Homo sapiens: one gene and its partners. The protein of the gene in region 1 interacts with the protein of each later gene in a pairwise test. Each region holds a gene or a part of one and is shown on either strand. Other genes may lie near its edges.

Region 1 (7,618 bases):
TTTCTGCTTCAAGGCTATGAACATTTATAAAGGAAAATAAAAAGTAACTGCATATATTACACAGAAATTTAAATTTCCAACACATTGATACTACAGTCTATTGGCACACATAGTGATATCACAATAGCACATTCATGAGCTTGTTTCCCTAATACAGGAATTATTCAAGGAATTCTCAGCATTTGTACTCCCTTTACCTCTTGATGATGCCCATTTTGTTATGTTTATTGCTTCATGAGTGTGTCTCCTTGTAACCCAAGAGTCCATTGAGGGCAGACCTGGCTCCACTCATCTTCACAACTATTATTTATCTCACAGGTGCCTGGCACGTAGTGCTTTAAAAACACTGAAGGAAGGGGAGGATGAAAAATGGAGGACTACTCAGGCCTTCATCCACACCAACCCACGTAGAACTCTGCAGGAAGTTTCAAAGTACTGGAGATTAAAGTGGTCAACAGTACAGAAAATGTCCCTGCCCACATGTAGCTTACACTCTATCATGTATATGGTCTATCAGACCATAAGTAAATAAACCACACATAGAATATCAGATAGTAACAAGTGCTAGGAAGAGAAACAAACCTAGACAAGGGGATAGAAAGTAATGGAACGCTGATATTTAGATATATTGATTATAGAAAGCCTCTCAGAAGAATTTGATAGGGAGTGGCAGCATAATTTTTTTCCCTCCTCATGTCTCTGGGTTATGATAGGTGTGCTGAGTTGGTAAGAACTGAATATTCATTTAATGTATAACAGTGCATGCAATTGAGACAGTTGCTATGGACAGGTTATAAAAAGAAGAAATCCATGGATGGATCCTCATTTATCAGCAAGTAGAGCATCCTTCAGAGAGAATAAAAACAACTCTCTCTTCATAGATAACCAAACAATGACACACAAAAGTTGCTTGTGCCCAATCATCATGGCCATGCTGGCAGGGAGGATGCAACAGGCTCCATCAGAGTGTTTACAGAATGAAGACTAATGTGGATTGAATTAAATATAATACTAAAGAGTGTGTTTACTCTGGATTGAATTAAATATAATACTAAAGAGTGTGTTTACTCATCCCCTCTATCCATGTACCTCCTGTGATATTAAAGCTTTCTGTAAATAAAAAAGGCTCTCTAAAATATGTTCATTAACAACAATCATAGATTTAACCTTTTTGTTGTTGCTACTACAGCTATTGAAATATAGACATCAGAAATCTTATGAAACCTTGATCTTTAAGTAAATAATAAGCCAAAGTAAAAAGCCTTTGCACATAGCTTCTGTTTCTGTCTCAATTCTAGTTTGTTATATATAGTTTAATAACTGCCCAGTCTTTAAAGTGACTTTATGATGTGACCTCACATACCTTTTTTATGATACCAGAAGTGTCCATCAATCAAATAAGATTCCAAATAACTGTAACATGGGGACAAAAAGTTACTGACTTCCCTAGGAGATGTATAACTCTCTGTTGAGATTTTGTAGGTCCAAATCTATCACTCTAACATGTTATATTTTAAAATTCATGTTCTTCCAAGTCATTCTTCTCTAGGAGTGAATTCCAGGTAGTTATATGTTTGGGAAGATGTGTGATACCTGTCAGACCCTCGGGGATCCTATTTTAGGCAACATACGTGATACTGAAGTAACTTGTTAAACAACATACGAACATTTAGTCTACCTAGTAGCAAGTAACTAACCTAACTAGTTATATGCCCTTTTTAAAGGGAAGCTGCATACATACTAGTATAAAGTAAGAATTTGAGCTGTCAGTAAGGATATGGAAGGAGGTAGGAAATCAGTAAACCTAGTTGTTCGTTCAATAAAAAAATGATAGAGTCATTCCGTACAGACAAAAAAAATCCTGAAAAGCTACAACTGGAAGGAATTAGAGATTAATCTGGTCCAACCCTCTTACTTTAAGGATGATGAAACCATAGCCCAGAGAGACTAATGAGCTTGTCTGGAATCTCCTGACCAGTAAGTTGCAAATCAAAAAATGGCAGTAAAGTCCATTCTCTGCCCCGTTTAGGTAGCACAAAACAGACCATGTTCTTGTTCATGTTTTGTGCCCCTGGAGGAGAAAGTAAGGCGCTTTGGAATTCCTTTTCTGGAATGTAGCTGACATAGCTAAAAATCCATGGCTTCAAGTAGAGCCTTCAATCACTCAGGCTCAAAAACATGTGTTTTATGACACTTTCTATCTCTTTTATGATTTGACCTATATTGTTTTTAACAAAGTTGGACAACTGGGTCTCATAAAGCAGAAACATTTAACCTACTGTTCTGGTAGCAAACTGTTCAGGGAATGGCTGTAATATATCACACGGTCCTTCTCTGCATCAAAGCTCAATCCTGGGAAAGAACAACTTCAGCATCTAAGGAAACATAACTCTTACTGTTGCTATGAGGGATTTTTTTTTATTCCTATCATATCTATTTTTGTCCCTTTTTCATGTTAAAGTCTCTGATGCTTTATAGAAAATCTGAAAATATATATTTAGAGGAGGTGGTTCTGACTATGCAAGTATATGATTCAGTCCATACTCCTGCTTCTTGTGTTAATTGTCATCTTTCATCTGTTCCCTGACTCATGGTGTAACCTTTAGTAGATGATTTTTCTATGCCTCAGTTTCCTAGTTGACAAAGCAGTTAGTAATACCAACCCCATCTCACCTGGACTGAAATTTGCATTAGAATGCCTTAAAGGAAAATGCCTTTAAAATTATGCCACTTATATACCAATGGTAATAGGCTCTTGTTAATCATCTTCATTGTATAAGCATTAAATAGAAGGTACTGAAGAGATCGTCCTAGTGCTTAAAATATTAAAACTAGGTTAATATTCTTTTGATCTGCCAGATTTTGCTGCTCTACTCAGGCAAAGAACATTCTAAAAACCTTGACTTTTTATGAAATCATATCTTTCTAAATGTTTTAAAGCAAATGTGTTCGTGTGTGGGGGAGTGCAGGTGTGGGTGTGTATGTGTAGACTCTTGCCTCCCTGCACTCTTTCCCTGGGTGATTTCTTTAGATGGTAGCTATACCTGAAACAGAAAAAAGCACAGGAGCTAACAGTTAGTTGGTTTTAATTGACCAACAGCTAAAAAGATGAGGTTATTGGTCATCATTAATAGCACCATTTTTCTAAGACCAGGGCCATGTTTTCCTCAATTTGACTACATTCTTAACCAAAACTCATGTGTAGCTAAGGGCACATATTTAAAGATGTGCTAATGGGTTTACTTTGTGCCCACTGCACAAGGAATTGCTGACTATCCCTGGTTCCAACTTTGATTTTAGCCCCATAATTCTATCCAATCAAACTAACTGGCCACATATAGGCATTTGATGGGACTGTAGATCGATATTTTTCTTTTGTAGATAAACATTACTAGCTGGTTGCTTGATAAGTAATTGGAAACATTTAATATGCCTCTGTTGGCCTGGATTACAGCACAAGCTCTGAGAAAACCTGGCTTAATAGAAAAATAACCTTCTATGTTGTTCCCCACTTTGTCACGTATAGACTATGTCCACATAACTAAAACTATCTACAGGATAATTTTTTTTGGAAGAAGTCTGATTTATTTGAAAACACAAAAATAACCACCTTCATTTATATTCAAACAGTGTGGCAGCTATATTGTGGACTAAAGAGTTCTTTCAGAATTTTATATTTCTTTTATTATTTCCACTTTTTAATATTATACTTTAAGTTCTGGGATACATGTGCAGAACGTACAGGCTTGTTACATAGGTATACATGTGCCATGGTGATGTGTTGCACCCATCAACCCATCACCTAGGTTTTAAGGCCCACATGCATTAGGTATTTGTCCTAATGCTCTCCATCCCCTTGCTCCCCACCCCCTGACAGGTGTGTGATGTTCCCCTCCCTGTGTCACTGTGTTACCATCTGTGTACAGGATAATTTAAAAATCCAAACACGTATTTCACATTTCCAGCTATACATTTATTTGCTTATATGGAGATCAGAAATTAAGACGATAACTGACAATTCCCTTATTCAACAAAATTACTGTCACTCAGTAATTCTTTCTTTTTTTTAACCATGATTAGTAACAAAATCCATATAAATGCCTCTCTCTAAGGGTATCAATTAGGTCAAATAAAGTAGAAATTTCCATCTTAAAAAGGCAGAACCCAAAACAACCTGCCTAGGACATAGTTTTATTTAACAGTTCTCTGAGTTCTTACTTACAGTAGACACTTCATGGAAAATAATAAAAGGTTGTGTCCACTCTCCACATTATACTCTAGCCACCCACATGGACAGATGTATCCACAAACAATGGGTAAAATATATGGTGTTAGAGTTAGTGAGGTGTAAATTATTGGCCAAGCCATTTGTGATTAATAAAGCATGAGGCATAAATTGCTCAGCAGCTTTTTAATAAAGCTTCATACAACTTGACAATTAGTTAAAATGTCAGAGGAAGATACATGAGATCGGAAGGCAAAATTTCAAACTAGTAAGAGTAATGCGGTGTAGATTCCACAAGGAAACATAGTTAAAAATCTGAGAGGACAGTCTAAGACAAACTCCATCTTCAGCAAATGAGAATGCCTGCCCAATTCTTTAACATGTAAGTGCAAAGACAACTAGATTCTAAGAGATTAAAGATTTCTTGTCAAGGCAATAAAAAATCTCAGCTTCTTTGTTGCCATTTCTTGTGTGCTTCATGCTTAAATGTGTACCTAATTTATGTGAGTTGTGCTGTTGTATCTCATTTCATTTATGGAGATGCAGTTCTAGTCATTGAGTGTTTAGGTAATCTTGCATTAAGCAAAAAAGAAGAACAGCTTATAAGAAAGACAGGTTTGTTGTTGTTGTTGTTTGTTTTATTGAGACGGAGTCTCACTCTGTCACCCAGGCTGGAGTGCAGTGGTGCGATCTTGGCTCACTGCAAGCCCCACCTCCCGGGTTCACGCCATTCTCCTGCCTCAGCCTCCCAAGTAGCTGGGACTACAGGTGCCCACCACCACACCCAGCTAATTGTGTGTGTGTGTGTGTGTGTGTGTGTGTGTGTGTGTTTTTAGTAGAGACAGGGTTTCACCGTGTTAGCCAGGATGGTCTCCATCTCCTCACCTCGTGATCCTCCCTCCTCAGCCTCCCAAAGTGCTGGGATTACAGGCGTGAGCCACTGCGCCCCGCCAAGAGAGAGGGGTCTTTAAAAGTACCTTTTCTGTAATGAAAAGAGCATTGTTCAACTAGGCATACATTACTCAGTCTGGTTCTTACCTTTCATATGTCTTTTGATCCTGTGGCCAAAGCCTGTGGCATTAATCCATGTGGATGTTGTCATTCCAGCTGGGAAGGATGAGTTCTTGCAGCAACGTCTGTGGGTCCAGGCAGGCACAGGCTGCAGCTGAGGGTGGTTACCAGCGCTATGGAGTCCGGTCCTACCTGCACCAGTTTTATGAGGACTGTACAGCCTCAATTTGGGAGTATGAGGATGATTTCCAGATCCAAAGATCACCTAACAGGTGGAGCTCAGTATTCTGGAAGGTAAGGAAGGAGCATGTGTTTAACTTAGGGAATGGAAAAATTATTGGACATGGTTAATACTGCAGCTGTGGAGGATGGAGAGGTTTAGTACTCGCTGTGTGTGCATCACTCTTGGTGATACTAAATGCATTTTTCTTACCTTAGGAAAGAAGAATCTAAACCTTGGGCCAAAGAAAGCCTCTAAACACAGCACAACTATTGATGAGCAGATTAAACATAAATAGGTGCAATTGCCATATGAATTATTATTATTGCTACCATTAAAAATGTGCCATTAAATTCACTAATTGAAGCCATCCATAGGCAAAACATTATATTCTTTCAGCCTTCCTTACAGGCGTGGTAAGTATCATCTGACAAGTTGCAACAATTATTAAAAAGAAATCATTAGGTATTTAGAGAGAGTTAATGATGAAATGTAGTACAGTGGTCAGTATACCAGCTCCGTCTCTACCGAGTGTGTGATCATGAGGCTTTCTGACCCCAGCTTCCTCAAATGAAGGAATCTCATTAGACAATGTATTTAGTCCCTCAACAGATAATTAGTGAGCATCTACTCTGTGCCAAGAGGGTTCAAAGTTCTGGAAGTTAAAGTGGTAAACAGGGAAAGAAAAAGTGACTTCCCTCATGGAGCTTACAATCTATCATGGGAAACAGGCTGTAAACAAAGAAACCACATGATAGAATGTTAGGTAGTGATAGTGCTATGGATGACAGGGGGTGATGGAGACTGGTATTTGGATATGCTGATGGTAGAAGGCTTTCAGAAGAGATGCCATCTCAAGGAATACCAGGATGAGTTGAGGGAACAGACCTGACTGAAGGTCATCCTAGACTGGGAAAATAGTAAGTCCAAAAACTCTGAAATGGGAACAAGTTTGGTGTGTTTGAAAATGATCCAGAGGTCTCCAATCTGGTTGGAGTGGGGTGAGAAAAGGGACAGGCAATGAATTAAGAAAAATAACAAGGCACAGATGATTTATGTAGAGCCTTGTACACCACAGTGAAGTCTTGGGTTTTTACTTCGAGAGACATGGGAAGCTACTGGAAGAGGTTGATAAATTTAGAGGGTGTTAAAGTACCCAGGCAAAAGATGCTGGTGGCGTTAGTGGAGATGGTGAAAAGTAGTCAGATTTAGGTAAAGGTTATGCCTATTAGACATCGGAGTAGTGATCTCTAGTGACAATTTAAATATATCAATCTACGGCTCATAAATTGGGAGTTATTGACACATAGAATCTATACAAGGCACTAGACTTCTGAGATCATCCAGGAGAAGAGTGTGGACATAGAAGAGAAGAGGGCATTGGGACATTCCAACATTTAGAAACTAAGAAGGGGAAGAGGCTTCAGGGATACTGAGAAGATGAACCTTAGATAATGCCTAAGGTCTTCCTTAATCTTTGTTTCTCCCAAAAGATCCCAGAATTTTTTGACATGGATATTGACATAAACTTGCAATTTATTGGCCATATAGTGTAACAAGAGGCTGTATAGCCTAATAATTATAAACATAGATTCTAACCTCAGACTACATGAGCTCAAACCCCAGCTCTTTTGTTTAATCATTCTGTAACCCTGGGCAAATTAATTGGCCTTATGGGGCCTCTAATGGTGATACTTATAGCACCAACCACATAAAAGATATGAGAATTAAATGAGATAGTATTTACAAAGAGCTTAACACTGTCTTGGTATGTGCTTAATAAGCATTAGCTATATTAGCTACTATTACTGGTTGCTGTATGAAGCACTGAGTTCTTAAATGGGAAAAAAAGTTGAAATATAGTTAATAAATCAAGTATTAAGTAACACAGTTGTTAACATGGATAACCCAAGACCTGTGTTAATTCAGTGTCATATTGTTGTCACATACTCTGCATCAGAACTGGTCAAGTCAGCATCCTTGCCCTGTAGAAATCTCACCTCTGATGAATCCTTACTGGCTTTAGCCAATGAAATGCACAGCCAAGCTTGGCACATCTTGTATTTACCCAGATATGTGGGTGGTTGTTTCCCTATTTGTCAAAAAAAAAAAAGCATTTGCCTGACAGATCTGTTGTGCCAAGAGCTCAAAATGCCACTGAC
Region 2 (8,486 bases), on another chromosome or scaffold:
CCATAAAAGGGCATTTAAATCTCTCAAGTAATTGCTTGTACGCAGCTCTGTGTATTGGATGCTCAGTCAAATGCTTTGACCACTTCCTAGGTTGATATCTAATGGAAGTTTCTTTTTGAAAACATGGAAGGAGCATTTCTAAGTCCTCCATATGAACCTTGCTGTGGTGGCAGATTAGGAGCACACACTCAATTATGCCTGATTCTAAAACCCCAGTTCCTCTTTTTTCCTTCTTCTTTCCCAAGAGATGGATCTTGCTATGTTGCCCAGGCTGGTCGTAAATTCCTGGGCTCAAGCAATCCTCCCACCTCAGCCTCCCTGAGTAGCTGGAACTACAGGTGTGCACCAGTATGGCCAAGCAAGAACCCCAGTTCTTTTTTTTTTTTTGAGACGGAGTTTCACTCTTGTTGCCCAGGCTGGAGTGCAATAGCGTGATCTCGGCTCACTGTAACCTCCACCTCCTGGGTTCAAGCGATTCTCCTGCCTCATTCTCCCAAGTAGCTGGGATTACAGGCATGTGCCACCAAACCTGGCTAATTTTGTACTTTTAGTAGAGACAGGGTTTCTCCATGTTGGTCAGGTTGGTCTTGAACTGCCGACCTCAGGTGATCCACCCACCTTGGCTTCCCAAAGTGCTGGGATTACAGGCGTGAGCCACTGTGCCTGGCCCTTTTTTTTTTCTTTTTTGAGACAGAGTCTCGTTCTGTCACCCAGGCTGCAGTGCAGTGGCGTGATCCATGCTCACTGCAACCTCTGCCTCCCGGGTCCAAGCAACTCTTGTGCTTCAGCCTCCTGACTAGCTGGGACTACAGACGCGAGACACCATGCCCAGCTAATTTTTGTATTTTTTGTAGAGATGGGGTTTCACCATGTTGGCCAGGCTGGTCTCAAACTCCTGACCTCAGGTGATCCACCCACCTCGGCCTCCTAAAGTGCTGAGATTACAGTCATGAACCACCGTGCCCAACCCGGCCCCCAGTTCTTAACAATGACACTGTTTTACCTTTCACAGTGCTATAAGGAAATGAACACACACAGACACACACACACCCCTAGGCTGAACTCCCTGAACACACCGTTTGCTCTGAAATTTGGCTCTTTTAGCTCATGAGCTTGCTATTGCTCAGGTCTCTTATAGCTACTTCTTTGGGAATGGATTGCAGAGGTTTATTTGTCACATTATCAATTGGTCTTACTACCCTCTCATCATATGTCATTTGTACTCTAAATACTATTATTTAGAGGAGTGATAGACTTATTCTAGGTGGATAGACTTAGCTTTGAATATTTTTTCTATTGTTAACTGGCTGTTGCGACATCAGGCAAGTCAGCATTCTCATCTGAAAATGGGGATGGATATATCTTCTTCACATGATTTTTATCAGAATTAAATTAGATAACTTGTACCTAGCAGAGGCGGGGCCCAGTAGGAAGTCAACAACATTAGTCATTTTATGCTTTCCTATTTCATTTAGGGATCAAAAGAGGGAGCTGGAATTTAAGGGAGTACTCCAGTAACTCCTTCCTTAAGATTTCTCAGGAAACAGCAAACATAGTAGAAATAGTGTATGCTTAGGAGTTAGATATAAGGATGTGGAATCAGATAATAGCATATGCTTAGGAATCAGATAGGGCTGAATTCAAACCCAATATTTATTATGTACTGCCTGCATGACATTGGGCAAGTCACTTCACCTATAAACTGTCTTTTTGAGAGGATTAAATGAAATTGTATATACACACCTAGCTCTGGATCACTATATACTTGGCCCTCAAATATAGTTCCCACCCCTATTCACTTACCTTCATCAACTACTTTATTCTGCAGTCATGGTTATGCTGACTTTTGGTTGTTTCCAAAAATGTAATTTCCCTAGAAAATCTTTTTCCCTTGCTGAGGATAGTCCAGAGTGTGATGGAGTCATTTTCAAAAAACAGTGTCCAATAGTTTGAATAATGGCAGCATTGTGGGGAAAAATAGTCTCCCCAGAGGATTTCAAAGAGGACCAAACTTATTTGAAAGTAACAGTATTTTAAAAAACTAATCATATAACTCTGACCTTTCTTATAAAATGTAATGCAACAACATATAAATCAACTCTGAATGTCTGTTTCTAGCATATTTTATATCTCAGGTCATCTTCCAGCATAGGAACACACATTTTCCTATTAAAGTGCTCAGATTTTCATTTGCCCAGAGCTGCAATGAGTGATTTGTGGTTACAATTTTTTTGCCTACAGTGCAAAATGAGGTTTCCATTTAGGCATCTCAAAAGCCCAGCGATCACTTTAAGTCATTCCTTTAGTAGACAGCCGATGGCTTAATTTTCAAACTTATATTTTTACAGATTTTTTTCAGCTAATTTGCTATTTACTGAATATTTTTTTAAAACATTGCACCTCATTCATGGTATGATAAAATCAAAATTAAAATAATTATGCTAACACTCCCAAAAAACATAAAAACAGGCCAATTTTAGTGAAAGTTACCCATTATTCCCAAGCTTAGTGATTGCTTTAAATTTTTTACAATCATGGTTTGCGTCTTCAATGAAATACTTAAAAAAAAATTATTACTTCTGGATGCAGTGGCTCATGCCTGCAATCCCAGTACTTTGGTAGGCTGAGGCAGGACGATCACTTGAAGCCAGGAGTTCAAGACCAGGCTGGGCAACAAAGCGAGATCCCATTGCTACAAAAAATTTAAATACCACCCATACAAAAAAGAGTAAAAATCAAATGGTTTCTCTTCAGTGTTTTATTTCAAAATGTCCTCATTAAAAATATTCCATAACCAAAAGTAAAAGTCCAGATGATACAAACGTAAATGTCAATCATTTTGGTGAAGTTGACAATATGGTGGTACATTTTTGGCAGAGCAGTACCACCAATTAGACCTGCTGTTGACACTGAGGGTCACCCTCATTCCCAGAAATCCATAGTCAACAGCTTAGGAGGCTTAGGACTGAAGCCTTGCTTCAGTTTGGAAATCTGGTGAGAAACCTACCTTCTGCACGCAAAGAGCCTTGGACCAGGAGCCTCGTGGTCCAGATGGAAGTGAGAAGCAACACCAGGCTGAAGCACCTGGCCATCGTGCCTACCCCTTCAGAGCCAGGGAAACACCTCAGATGGCCACTGGTGATATGAGAGGCAGATGCTCAATAACTAGTCCGGATGGAGAGTTCTGGAACTATGTTGAGGCTCACACTCACTGCTCCACTTCATAACCGAGACATCCGGATTTCCCTGCTTTCAAGCTTCTGACTTGTCAAGGTCACTGGGGGAAATGAATGACGTCCCTTGAACGCCCAGGCTGTACTTTGTGGATGGCCTTCTGGAAAATTTAGCTAATGCTGACTCAGAAAACACACAAATGAGGAAGGCAGATAGCACAGTGTGAACTGCTAAAGGTTCTCCCAATTCCCATATTCCCTGCTGTTCCTCCTCCCCCAGCAGCTCAGTTCTCACACCATTCACTGTTACTGCCTGTGGAGTCCATCGTTTATGTACTCCTAGAAACATCTCTGTCCCTAAAGGAGACTGAGCATAGGTTGTGCCTCTTTTCCTCCCGCAATCAGTGATTTTTCCACCCAGCTGTTCGGCCTTGTGATCTGCAGGGTATGATGCTGAAGCTCATGAAAGTAAATGTCCACTTAAATACTGAGTCTAGAACCTTCTGCCTTCCTTTGAGTCTCCTTTTACACATTTGAAATCTCTACACCACTACAGGTGATTCCTTTTTCAAAGAAACCAGGCACATATAAACATTCACATTTACATAACACAAGTAGGAGGGCAATTTACAAAATTAAACATTTTACACTTTCCCCAAGGATTTTTAACTTTACAATAGTAATCACCACAGGGGTCTTTTATGAAATAACTTTCTCTTAATAACTCCTTTCATATTCTGGTAGGCCAGAATTCAAGTCAGACTCCACCTTTGTTGTTCGATGAACATGAGGTTTATCTGTGCTGTGTACCAGCAGAGTGTATTCTATGTTTTTCCAGCCGGATTTTCAGTGGTTTTTGCTTCATGGTAATTATGGAGTTCTGGCTTGTAAGCAATGTCTTGGGCAAAGGTTTATGAGATTTTTCCAAAATGAATGTCTTTTATAGGAAAAGTATATGGATAACGAATTCTTTTTTATATAAGTGGTACTGGTCATAAAGTTAGATATTTGTGTGAAAAATATCAATAACAAAAAGAGAATCTGCTCTAAACAAATGCAGGGAACTTCTAAAAGACCAGGGTAACAGCCCTTACACATCTCCAATACCGACCTCATGATCTGGGTGAGCACAAGCCCCAGTTTCTCAGAAACATGCATGACTCTATCATCACAGCACCAGGGAGGCAGACAGGCAGAGTCCTGGCCTCTTCATGATTATTCTTAAAGCCTAACACCATGCCCGAAAGAGAGCTAGCTTTCTAGCATTTGTTCACTTATTGCAAAAAGAACGAAGGAAGACAGGAAGGGGAAGAATGAATCAGGGAAGGCAAGGCTTTGTGTCAAGGAGGAGAATGAGAGTCACAGTGATCACCAGCCATAGAATTTCTGGAATACCAATGAAGAGGCCTTAGAAAGGTCGCTGTGCCAGCTTTCTATTGCTGTCCAACAAATTACCATAGACTTAGCGGCTTAAACAGTACTCATTTATCATTTAACAGCTTCTATATGTCAGAGGTCTGAGTGGGCTCAGTTGGGTCCTCTGCCCTGGGTCTCACGAAACTGACATTAAGGTGCTGGCTGGGCTGGGCTCTTACCCAGAGGCTCTGGGGAAGAATCCACTTCGAAGCACATTTGGGTTGTTGGCAGAATTCATTTCTTTGAGGTTGTGGGAATGAGGTCCCTGTTTCCTTGCAGGGTGTCAGCCAGGGACCATTCTCTTCTCCTAGAGCCCTTCCATTTTCAAAGCAGCAATGACACACTGAGTCCTTCTCATACTTCTAGTCTCTCTTTCACTTCTACAGTTAGCCAGAGAAAGTTCTCTGCTCTTTTAAGAGACACGGTCTTGCTCTGTTGGCTGGAGCGCAGTGGCGCCATCGTGACTCACTGCAGCATCTACCTCCTGGGCTCAAGCAGAGCTCTCTACTTTTTTTTTTTTTTTTTTTTTTTTTGAGACAGAGTCTCACTCTGTTGCCCAGGCTGGAGTGCAGTGGCGTGATCTCAGCTCACTGCAAGCTCTGCCTCCTGGGTTCATGCCATTCCTTGCCTCAGCCTCCCGAGTATCTGGGACTACAGGCGCCCGCCACCACACCCAGCTAATTTTTTGTATTTTTGGTAGAGGCAGGGTTTCACTGTGTTAGCCAGGATGGTCTCGATCTCCTGACCTCATGATCCGCCCGCCTCAGCCTCCCAAATGCTGGGATTACAGGCGTGAGCCACCGCGCCCGGCGAGCTGTCTGCTTTTAAGGGCTCATGGGCCCACCTGGATAACCTCCCTATCTTAAGGTCAACTGTACCATCTAATGTAACACAACAAAGCTCCATACCCCTGGAGCTCCTATTCAAAGGCTCCAGGGATTAGGGTGGGACATCTTTGGAGGGCTATTCTAGAAATTCTGCCTTCCACAGTCACTTAACCTTGATTTGATTCTGATCTGCTTTCTGAGAGAAACTTCCACATCCACTGTTTTCTGCGGCCCTTTGCATCCCTCTGGGAGATTCATTTGCATATAATCTTGCTTGTCCACATTTGAAGTGGATATTAGGGAGTATGCCTTCCTTGGGAATAGCACAGCTTTTGCAGTCTGCTTCCTGCCGGCATAAGCTAAGATCCCAAAAGTTTTCTTAATTTTAAAAAAATTTTATTTTTAATCAATACATAATTATACACATGTACATTTTGATGTTTCCATACAAACAAGATGTAGTGATCAGATCAGGCTAATTAGCATATCCATCATCTGAAACATTTATCCTTTGTGTTGGGGGTGTTCAATATCTTCTCTTCCAGCTATTTGAAAATATGTTATTGTTATCTATAGTCATCCTATAGTGCCATAAAACACTATAACTTGTTCCTCCTAATTTTATGTCCTTTAACAAATCTGTCTTTTCCTCCTCTCTTCCCTTTCCAGCCACTAGTATCCTCTATTCTGTTTTTTACTTCCATGAGATCTTTTGTTAGCTTCCATGAATTAGAACATGTGGTGTTAACTTTCTGTTCATGGCTTATTTTACTTCACATAATGACCTCCATTTCCATCTATGTTGCTGTGAATGCCAGGATTTCATTTTTTACGGCTGAATACTATTCCGTTGTGTATGTACACCATGTTTTCTTTATCCACTCATCTGTTGCTGGACACATTTTAATACCATATCTTGGCGATTGTGAATACTGCTGCAATAAACATGAGGGTGCAGGTATCTCTCTGATATATTTTCTTTCCTCCTCAAAGCTGTTTCCTCACCTGAACAATGAAAGGGGTTTTTAGTCCTGGCTTGTGTTTCTTTGTAAATTCCCTCACAAAGTTAGATTTCTGCTTCCATGTGCCAATAATCATACCCCAAATCCTTTCCCAGTCATAATTCTCAAGAAGTATTTCCTGTTTCTCAGCACCATACCCCTCAAATTTAGTGGTGAATACACTAAGTTCATTTGAACTCACAAAGGGCCACATCCTTAATCTAGCCTTTGCCATAAGGCTGAGTCGATCTGTTCAACTGAGAAATTTTATTGGCTCCCACTCAAAGCTCTTTTTAGTCTGTCTGGGATTTAGAAGTGGTCAGGTTTTCTCACCCTTCAATCTTTCACATTTCTGAATACTCTATATTCTTTTTCATTTTTGCTCCCACATAGCCAATTATTTCTCCTGCCATACCTTGCCAAAGGCAGCCAAGAGAAGTTTCCATACCCCAACGCTGATTCTTTCCACCACTTATAAATAGGCTAACCATGAGATGCTTTCCAAGTTATCACAGGTAAGACTTTACTATCTTACCATCTTTCTAGCAGTTTTGTTTCTTGCCATGTAACTGGTAAGCTAGAACCTCATATTTTGGAATTTTGCTATTAAAGTACACAATTTCTGGTTCAAATGTATGCATTAGGGTAGGCTAACTGCTATAAACATCCTGGAATCTCTGTGGCTTAATATACTAAAATCTTATTTCTTATTCATGTCACAGTTCAATACTGGGAGTGCTCATTCAAAGACCCAGCTTCCGTCTAGTGGTTCTGCCATTTTCTCGGGTCTCAGTGTTCTCATCTGAATCCTCTGGCTTTGGTAGGCAGAGAAGGGAGTAAAAAAAGGTGTGAAGTATTGGGCAGGAGAGTTTATTTTTAGGGAACTAGATTTGGAAAGTCCACATTCCCCTGCAGCTAGCTGTAAGAAAGACAAAAATAGTTCAGCTGTGGAAATCAGGTTGGTTAAAAACTCAGCAGACTCAATCACAGCAAACTGTGTTAATTAAAAAAATCATAGACCAGGAAGATACAGGAAACCAGGATCAGGAATGGGGAAGGGAAGAGGAGGAACTGATCCAGCCCCTGTGAGGTAGCCCATAGTATAACGACCAAGGGTTGGGGACCTCTGACTTGGTTCTGGAATGCACTAATATATCCAAAGGCATCTAATTCTGGGTTGGGGTAAGACTGTAATTCAACTCCATAAAATGAGGAGGCATTTGGCTGCTGCCAGAGGTTTGGAAATGTGCTTTTATTTTCAAACTCAGGTATGTGACACTCTACAGTTCAATGCTAGCACACCTGTGTGAGGCTTAACAACATGAGGAACTGATAGCCAGTGATACACAAATCCAGCACTTCCTCTCCATTTACTCTGTCAGGCTGTATATGGGGAGCAACACATATGGCTTTGTGGCAGCCAGAAAGTGAAGGTCTTTTTAGGAGGTGACATCAACAATGACACAAACACATCACTCTGCAACTGAAGGCAGGGAACCAGACTCCTAGGGCTAAGCAGAGATGTCAGACTTCAGAGGCATTTGGGGGACTCTTCAGATCCACATCCTCACTGAAAATCCAGGGCCTGTTTCTCTCCAGTTCACTACCGCTTGGGCAGCAGCTCCCACTGCTTCAGGCTGGTCTTTGCTTTCCAGAAAAGATGGACTCATGAGCACTTTTTCAGCCCCTGTATATATGGCTATTCTTATGCTCCCTTTTGGAGATGTCCTTTTCCTCGACCTCCCTTGCTTACAAATGGAATAGGGTGGGAGAGGGCCTGTGCCTGGAAGTACTCTTGCAGGCTTTTCTGTGGGGCAGCTGGAGGTGCAGGAGCTCTCCATAACTGCCTTCCTGGCCTTTGACTCATCCAGAAACAAAGGTAGGAAACTTGTGACCAAGTGAACAATGGGGCCAGCTGAGCCTGGCCCTGCTTTAAGGGAGGCAGAGATTGAACATTCCCCACCTGGAGTTCTGCTTCCACGGCCACTCTCTAGAACTCTATTTGCATCCTGTCTTTGGCTCTGAGGGCCTCATGTAGCTAAAGCTCCTTCAGTTGTATCCAGACCCCC
Region 3 (7,579 bases), on another chromosome or scaffold:
GCAATTTCATATGATTCAAGCTAACACATTGTAATAGCATTATTACTGATCTTAGAATAAACTCCCATTTAAAACAATAAACAATTATTGGCCGGGCGCGGTGGCTCACACCTATAATCACAGCACTTTGGGAGGCTAAGGCAGGCAGATGGCTTGAGGCCAGGAGCTCAAGACCAGTCTGGCCAACATGGCAAAACTCCGTCTCTACTAAAAATACAAAAAAAAATTAGCCAGGCGTGGTGGCCAGTGCCTGTATTCCCAGCTATTCGGGAAGCTGAGGCATGAGAATCACTTGAACCTGGGAGACGGAGGCTGCAGTCAGCCGAGATCACGCCACTGCACTCCAGCCTAGGGGACAGGGTGAGACTCCATCTCAAAAAAAAAAAACAACAAAACACCCAAAAAACAAAAAAGCAATTATTGATAGAGAATGCTCAATGGAAAAATAAATTACTTTTTATTATGAGACATTACTGGGAGGATAATAGATCCTAGTTAACAAAGTGTTACCATCTATGCTCTTACCATCACTAACATAATATTACTATTCTAATGAATAAATATTTACTATTAAAACAGCACTTAACATTATTTTATCTATTTTAAGGATCTAAAAGTTAGTTTAGATTTTTTCTTCAATCATCATACTACAGAATGCTAAACTATGGGTTGGCAAATACTTTGATTAACAGAATGCTGAATAACAAGGCCAGGCTGTGTTTAGGTTCCTTTGTTGATATTAAAAATAGCTAAGTCACTCTTGCAAAATTAAACTTCCATGAAATTGCGATACTGTGCAAGCTTATTTCAGTGATAATTCCGGTTATGCTACTCTGTTTATCTAAGACTTCCCCTTACGGTTTGTTTTAAGGAGACTCCTAAAAAATGTCTTATGCAGTCAAGACAGGCAGTTTATAAATGTACTGGGTTACTTCAACATTAGTGACTTTAGTTAGTAAAGCTCTTGTTTTTTTTTTTCTGCTTCATTTTTCCTTCATAAAAGCCTTGTTTTAAATTAACTTATCTGAATTAAATTAATTGATATTAAGATTTTATTTAAATCATGCATTAAAACCAAAACATCCCCAATTGAAAAATCAACTTTCATTAATTTTTTTTTACTCTTACAAAAAAGAATTTGAACGTGGTAAGAATTTTACTAAGAATAATGTATCCTGAACTGACCATGGAAAATTTCCCCTTCAAATTAAAAGCAAATGTTTTAAACAGAGGGAATATACATAAACAGATGCTGTGGAAGACTGCTTAGTTTACATTTCATTTTCCACTGAAAACTACTAGGAATTAAAATACATGTGATTTTTAAAAATATTACAGAGAATCTTAAAGAAAACAGAACCCATACAATTATTCATATCATCCAATATAAGCGCCTCTTAATTTTTTAAAACCGCTATTTTGAATCCAAAGATCATAATAAAAATAGCTTTTTTTTCAGACGGAGTTTCGCTCTTGTTGCCCAGGCTGGAATGCAATGGCGCGATCTAGGCTCACTGCAACCTCCGCCTCCGGGAGTTCAAGCGATTCTCCTGCCTCAGCCTCCCGAGTAGCTGGAATTACAGGCGCTCGCCACCATGCCCGGCTAATTTTTTGTATTTTTTTAGTAGAGACAGGGTTTCACCATGTTGGCCAGGCTGGTCTCAAACTTCTGACCTCTGGTGATCCACCCACCTCGGCCCCCCAAAGTGCTGGGATTACAGGTGTGAGCCACCGCACCCGACCCATAATAAAAATACCTTGGAGGTGTGTTTCTTGTAAATGAGTGGCTAATTTCCCAACACCCTGTAAAAGTATATGGGTAAAAAGAAACTGAAAATCATCATGCAACCAGAGTTAACAACTATCTTGCAAAATTCATATCATTTGTTTTAAAACCAAAATAGCAAGGAAGAGCTGGTGTTATCCCAATAGCCTCTTTTTAATTGGTCTACAACAACTGCAACTCTTCATAACTTTACCAACACAACAAAGTCAGGCAGGCAGTCTGACAGAGTCAACGTTTGTGGGAACCTACAGCGCTTCCTTCTCTCTCTGGAGATGAGGACAATGAAAAAAGGTGTTCTGTTTTCCAGTAGTCCTGTAAGAGGAGCCATTGAGCTGGGCTGTACAACCAGACAACAGAACACAGGAAAATTCACATCAAAGCAAGGGCGCATGCCAGGGTAATATGCAATAAAACCCTCTGCCAAAGCATTAAGGGGAAAAAAAAGCAAGGAGGTAGAGAGAACCTGCTGGACTACCTTCTCATTAACACAGGGAGGCAGAAAGAAACAAAATCTGCCTGTATTCAGGAGCGGAGAAAACTGTGTCCTAGATATATTGGAGTATTCCTATAGACATGTTTATGAGCATTCGGACAAATTATCAATGAACTAAACCCAGAAAGCAGTGTCCTGTACGGTGGAGTATTCCTATGTAGACAGACATGAGAATCTTACCATTAACTAAGCCCAAAAAGGCAAAGTATTCTAGAAACACAGATATATGAGAATTTAGATGCACATTTCCAATGAATAAAACCCACTGGTTTTACAGTGAGAAAAAACTGTTTGAAATAACATCAGGTAAAGAATTGGGTAAAGGTGTGATGAAGTTATATCCCCTCCCCTTTTCCTCATACCCTTTTTGACAATCTCTGATTCTCTCATTTCATAGATGTCCCTTTCACTTGAATGCGCACACACACACACACACACACACACACACACACACACATCATTAGGTCTCCAGAAACAAAGGAGGGTCCTTAATTCTCCGGCCTGTGGAACCACACACGCCCCCTGCCCACAGATGGTGACTTTCATTAATGAGTAAGCCGAGGGAAGAGGTCTCCACCCCGACCACTGCCATGCACACTGTGACAACGGGGCACGAGACAAGCGCCACAAAGAAAGGGGAGGAGTGGACGGGGACCAGGAAAACACTGCCACGCCGCACCCCCCAAGGCGCGCGCCCACCGCCAACGCGGGGGCAGCGTCCTCGCCATCCTCCTCCTAGCCTCCCAGCTCATCCCAGCCGCCTCCCACGCCCGGGGACCCGATGCCAGGGCTTGGGCGAGCAGGACGTGCGGGGGCCCACGCACCTTCCCTCCGTGATCTCCAGGTGACAGCCCCGCTCCGCCCTTTGTGAGGGACTCACCCTCCAGTCCCGGGGCCGCGCCGGACCCTCCTCCGCGTCCCTCCTCAGCCTGGAGACACCGCCTCACCCCTGCACACCGCGCCCGGCCGGCCGAGGCGCCGGGAGAGTGTGTGTGTGTGGGAGGCTGGCGCGGGCCCGCGGTCTCCTCAGCATCCCGAACCCGGAGCGGCTCGGTCCCCCAAACCCCAGCCCGGGGGCGGCGGCCGCGGCGCTCCCGCCCTCGCTCGCTCACTTACTCGGGCGCGCCGGTGGCAGCGGCAGACGTGCGGGACCGTCAGCGCCCTGCGGCGGGCGGCAGGCTGCGGGCGGCGAGCGTCCGTCCGGACAGAGCGCGGCGGAGGTGGCGGCGGCTGACTGCGCCCGGCGGCCCCTCGCGAGGGGCGGGCCCGCCGGGGGAGGGGCGGGCGCCGCGCCTCTCATTCATGCAGCGGGGGCGGGGTGAGGGACCCGGATGCCCGGGCAGTTTCCCCACCCACCTCGGCGGAGGGCTCGGCGGCTTCAGAGTCTGCAGTGCGCAGGCGCGGCGCTCCCTGGCCAGGCCTGGTGCGGCCCTGGCCGCTGGCTCTGTTCCTGGTTAGAACTACGCCAGACAGGCCGGGCGAGGTGGCTCACGCCTGTAATCCCAGCACTTTGGGAGGCTGAGGCGGGCAGATCACGAGGTCAGGAGATCGAGACCATCTTGGCTAACGCGATGAAACCCCGTCTCTACTAAAAATACAAAAAATTAAATTAGCCGGGTGTGGTGGCGGGCGCCTGTAGTCCCAGCTACTTGGGAGGCTGAGGCAGGAGAATCGCCTGAACCTGGGAGGCGGAGCTTGCAGTGAGCCGAGATCGTGCCACTGCACACCAGCCTGGGCGACAGAGCGAGACTCTGTCTCAAAAAAAAAAAAAAAAAACAACTACTCCAGACAGACCTTCTCCATCGACCGTTTAGTATTTTTGCGTGCCCTACAAGCATTTTTAAAAGTGAAAGCATGGGGCCGGGCGCAGTGGCTCACGCCTGTAATCCCAACACTTTGGGAGGCCAAGGCGGGTGGATCACCTGAGGTCAGGAGTTCCAGACCAGCCTGACCAACATAGAGAAACTCTGTCTCTACTAAAAATACAAAATTAGCTGGGTGTGGTGGCTCATGCCTGTAATCCCAGCTACTCGGGAGGCTAAGGCAGGAAAATCTCTTGAACCCGGGGAGCGGAGGTTGCAGTGAGCCAAGATCGCACCATTGCACTCCAGCCTGGGTGACAGAGCAAGACTCCGTCTCACACACAAAAAAATGAAAGATTGGAATGCCACCCCTTTCCTAGCATGCAGATTGACAGTCCCCAGAGACACAAGAATGGTCACGTGGTGCCCATTGGTTTGATGGGGAGATGGTATGCACCGCACCCTCCTCCATCTGCCCCTCCTGCTGCAGCCTCTCAGCTGAGTGCTAGAACCTTGGTGATGGATGAGACCTAGACTCTGCCCAGATAGTGGAGAGAGGTGTGTGCAAGAAACAGTGCATTCCTTTATTTACATCCACTCCTCAACCTCCGGCTCCCATTCTACAGGGCAGGCAATAAATTGACCTCCGATTTTGGGAGGCTGAGCTCTTCCTGCAATACCAAGGCAAGGATCTGGGGAGTCCTCTCTTGTCTTTAGCAGGCAGTGTATTCTGCAGATACTCTCTTGTTCCCATCGCCTTGTGTCTGCCACTCCTGGGGTACGGAAGTTTCTGGAGAGGCTAGGAGCCTGCAGAGGGAATGGCTGTGAAGCTCCACAGCTGACTGTGTGTGCGCTGCAGCTCAGAGCTTGCAAAAATGATTGCCCCCTCTTCCTCAGTCTCCATGTGTCCCCCAGAAGTTCTCCTTCCTTCTCCTAATCTCTCAGGCCCCATCACATAAACCATAAACAGCTCAGTAGCTTAACTTTGGGAAGCAAAAGTCATCATGGCAAGCGCCTAGAGGCATGTTCCTTCTGCTTTGGCAAACCATTAACCACCAAGGCAGGGAGGAAGTAAAGAGGGAAACATTAGTGAATTTCTCAAGAAGTCACCTGCCACCCAATGGTCACAGTCCCCCAAAGTGAGAGAAGGGTGGAGGCATGTGCTAGGGAGACTGTGGCAAAAGGAAGGGAGTGGGAGACCCAGGCTTCCTCTAGAGCTGCCTGTGCCAGGGCTGTGCTGGGGGAACACTGCCCTCCTTGCTGTCAATCATAGCAGTTACCTGGAGGGTCTTTTCAACTTTGCTTTGCTCAAACCTCTCACTGTTCTAAATCAGCCCCCTCATCTCTCCCCTGGGCTGTTGCAGAAGTCTCAATCCATTCTCATGCAAATCGATTCTCATGGTATTCAAATCTGCCTGTGTTTCTGTCTTTTTCTTTTTCCCTGCCCCATCTGGCTCCTTGAGCCTTATTTTCCAGCCATTTACAGAACAGCACCATGGTGTTTCACCTCAGTAGTCACCAAGGTGACTGCTGTTTCCTGCTGTTCCCCTACTAGGAAAGCAATACTTACCTAGCATGCAAAAGTTGCTCTTTTCTCTGAAAATCCACAGATGCTTTTTAGGGCAGTGAAAATACTCTGTGTATGATACCATAATGGTGGATACCTGTCATGACACATTTGTCTAAATCCATAGAATGAATAATACCAGCAGCAAACTCTAATGTAAACATGGATTTTGGGTGATAATGATGTGCCAATGTAGGTCCAACAATAGTAATAAATGCTCCCGTGGGAGAATGTTTATAATGGGGGGGCTATGTATGTGTAGGGGGGAAGGGCTAGTTGGGAACTCTGCACATTCCTCTCACTTTTGTGGCAAACTTAAAACTGCTCTAAAAAAAAGTAAAGTATTTACAAAGTCATTTTTGATAAAGTATTTTTTTCTGCCCCCACTTATTGACAGACTTTCCTTGAGAATCCCCACCTGTGCCCTGTACCCACTTCCCTCTCAGCACTAGGCACCCTCCAAGGTCCCTGCTCATTTGCATATTTTCTTACCACACCAGCATGTGAGTCCTTCATCAGCAGGATCAGTATCTCCCAGGACCTAATATGTGACTGGCACATAGTGGGTCTGCTGTGGCTATTGGTGGAGGTGATGTTCCCTGGTGGGCTGGGGAGGCTCCACAGGAGAAGGAAAGGCTGAGCTCCTTTTCTTTCTTCTTCCTTATTTTGGCTTCCTTCCTCTGCCCTGCGTTTGGAAACCTGTTTTGTTTGTTTGTTTAGAAAGCTTGGCTAGTAATTCACTAGTCCAATCAGGCTGTAGGGTAGAGGATGGAGTGGCTCATTTCATGTCTTTTGTTCTTGAAAAAATTAGGGGTGAGTGGGAAAGAGAATGAGAGAATGAACGGAAGGAGGAGGGGCCGTGTCCAGTTGCTGTTTTCAGGGAGACTCATCTTATTAAAATTTTGCTGTGTCATCAACTGGCCCAACTGGTTTTTAGGGTCAAGGAGAAAGTTTTCCTTTGGGACTGGACAGGTGGAATCTGGCCTCACAGTTTCTACAACATATGGCAGGATCCTGCTCTTCTGTCCCCTGTAGCGGGTTGTCCCGTGTTCCCCTTAAGGAAGAAATCACAGTTTTTGTCCTCCTGGTGCTTCCGGCTGGAGGTTCACCTGCTAGTCCCTGATCCTCTTTGCTTAGTGATGCACATGAGTCTACTCATCCCCCCACCACTCCCAGCCCCCACTGGTCTAGGCAAAATGCAAGTGATGGGAGAGTGTGGGTGGGCAATTCTTTCTCTGGAGGGTTTAGGTGGGTACCTCAAAACAGCAGGCAGCTAGGACTTGAAGTGGTGGCTTCGCAGCTAACATTTTCCTTGTTCCACATGATGGGTAGGGGTAGGGTAGGGAAGACTTCACTGTTTGGAGTTTCGGAGGATGCCCCTCTTTCTCTTTATCCTTCCTCCCCACAGTCCCCTCCCATCTCCTCCCTTATACCTCTTTTTTTTTTTTTTTTTTTTTTTTGAGATGGAGTTTCGCTCTTGTTGCCTGGGCTGGAGTACAGTGGCGCCATCTCGGCTCACTGCAACCTCCATCTCCCAGGTTCAAGCAATTCTCCTGCCTCAGCCTCCTGAGTAGCTGGGATTACAGGCATGCGCCACCACGCCCAGCTAATTTTGTATTTTTAGTAGAGACGGGGTTTCTCCATGTTGGTCAGGCTTGTCTCAAACTCCTGACCTGAGGTGATCCACCTGCCTCGGCCTCCGAAATTGCTGGGATTACAGGTGTAAGCCACCACGCCCAGCCCTTATACCTCCTTTTAAGCAATGTCCTCACCCCAAATCCATCTCAGAAAATTGTCCCTACCCATATGGTCAGAAGTCCTTCAAGACTCCTGGAAAAGAAATCACAACTACTTTTAAATCAAACGTCTGACTAATTTTGGAACAGTGAGAACAGGGGCTGGTTTTAGTCATCTTTGGATCAGGTGCCCAA

What was found.
Region 2: the proteins of NRSN1 (region 1) and LYVE1 interact in binary tests that used the Homo sapiens proteins (3 or more experiments, as listed by UniProt).
Region 3: the proteins of NRSN1 (region 1) and RNF24 interact in binary tests that used the Homo sapiens proteins (3 or more experiments, as listed by UniProt).

The regions. Positions count from the first base shown.
Region 1 is NC_000006.12:24,128,987-24,136,604, forward strand, and holds part of NRSN1 (neurensin-1), read left to right. Parts: intron 1-5,332; 5' UTR 5,333-5,341; coding exon 5,342-5,530; intron 5,531-7,618. UniProt on the Homo sapiens protein: May play an important role in neural organelle transport, and in transduction of nerve signals or in nerve growth. May play a role in neurite extension. May play a role in memory consolidation.
Region 2 is NC_000011.10:10,565,441-10,573,926, forward strand, and holds the start of LYVE1 (lymphatic vessel endothelial hyaluronic acid receptor 1 precursor), read right to left. Parts: upstream 3,226-8,486; 5' UTR 3,093-3,225; coding exon 3,008-3,092; intron 1-3,007. UniProt on the Homo sapiens protein: Ligand-specific transporter trafficking between intracellular organelles (TGN) and the plasma membrane. Plays a role in autocrine regulation of cell growth mediated by growth regulators containing cell surface retention sequence binding (CRS).
Region 3 is NC_000020.11:4,012,042-4,019,620, forward strand, and holds the start of RNF24 (RING finger protein 24), read right to left. Parts: upstream 3,518-7,579; 5' UTR 3,396-3,517; exon of another isoform or gene 3,104-3,395; intron 1-3,103. UniProt on the Homo sapiens protein: May play a role in TRPCs intracellular trafficking.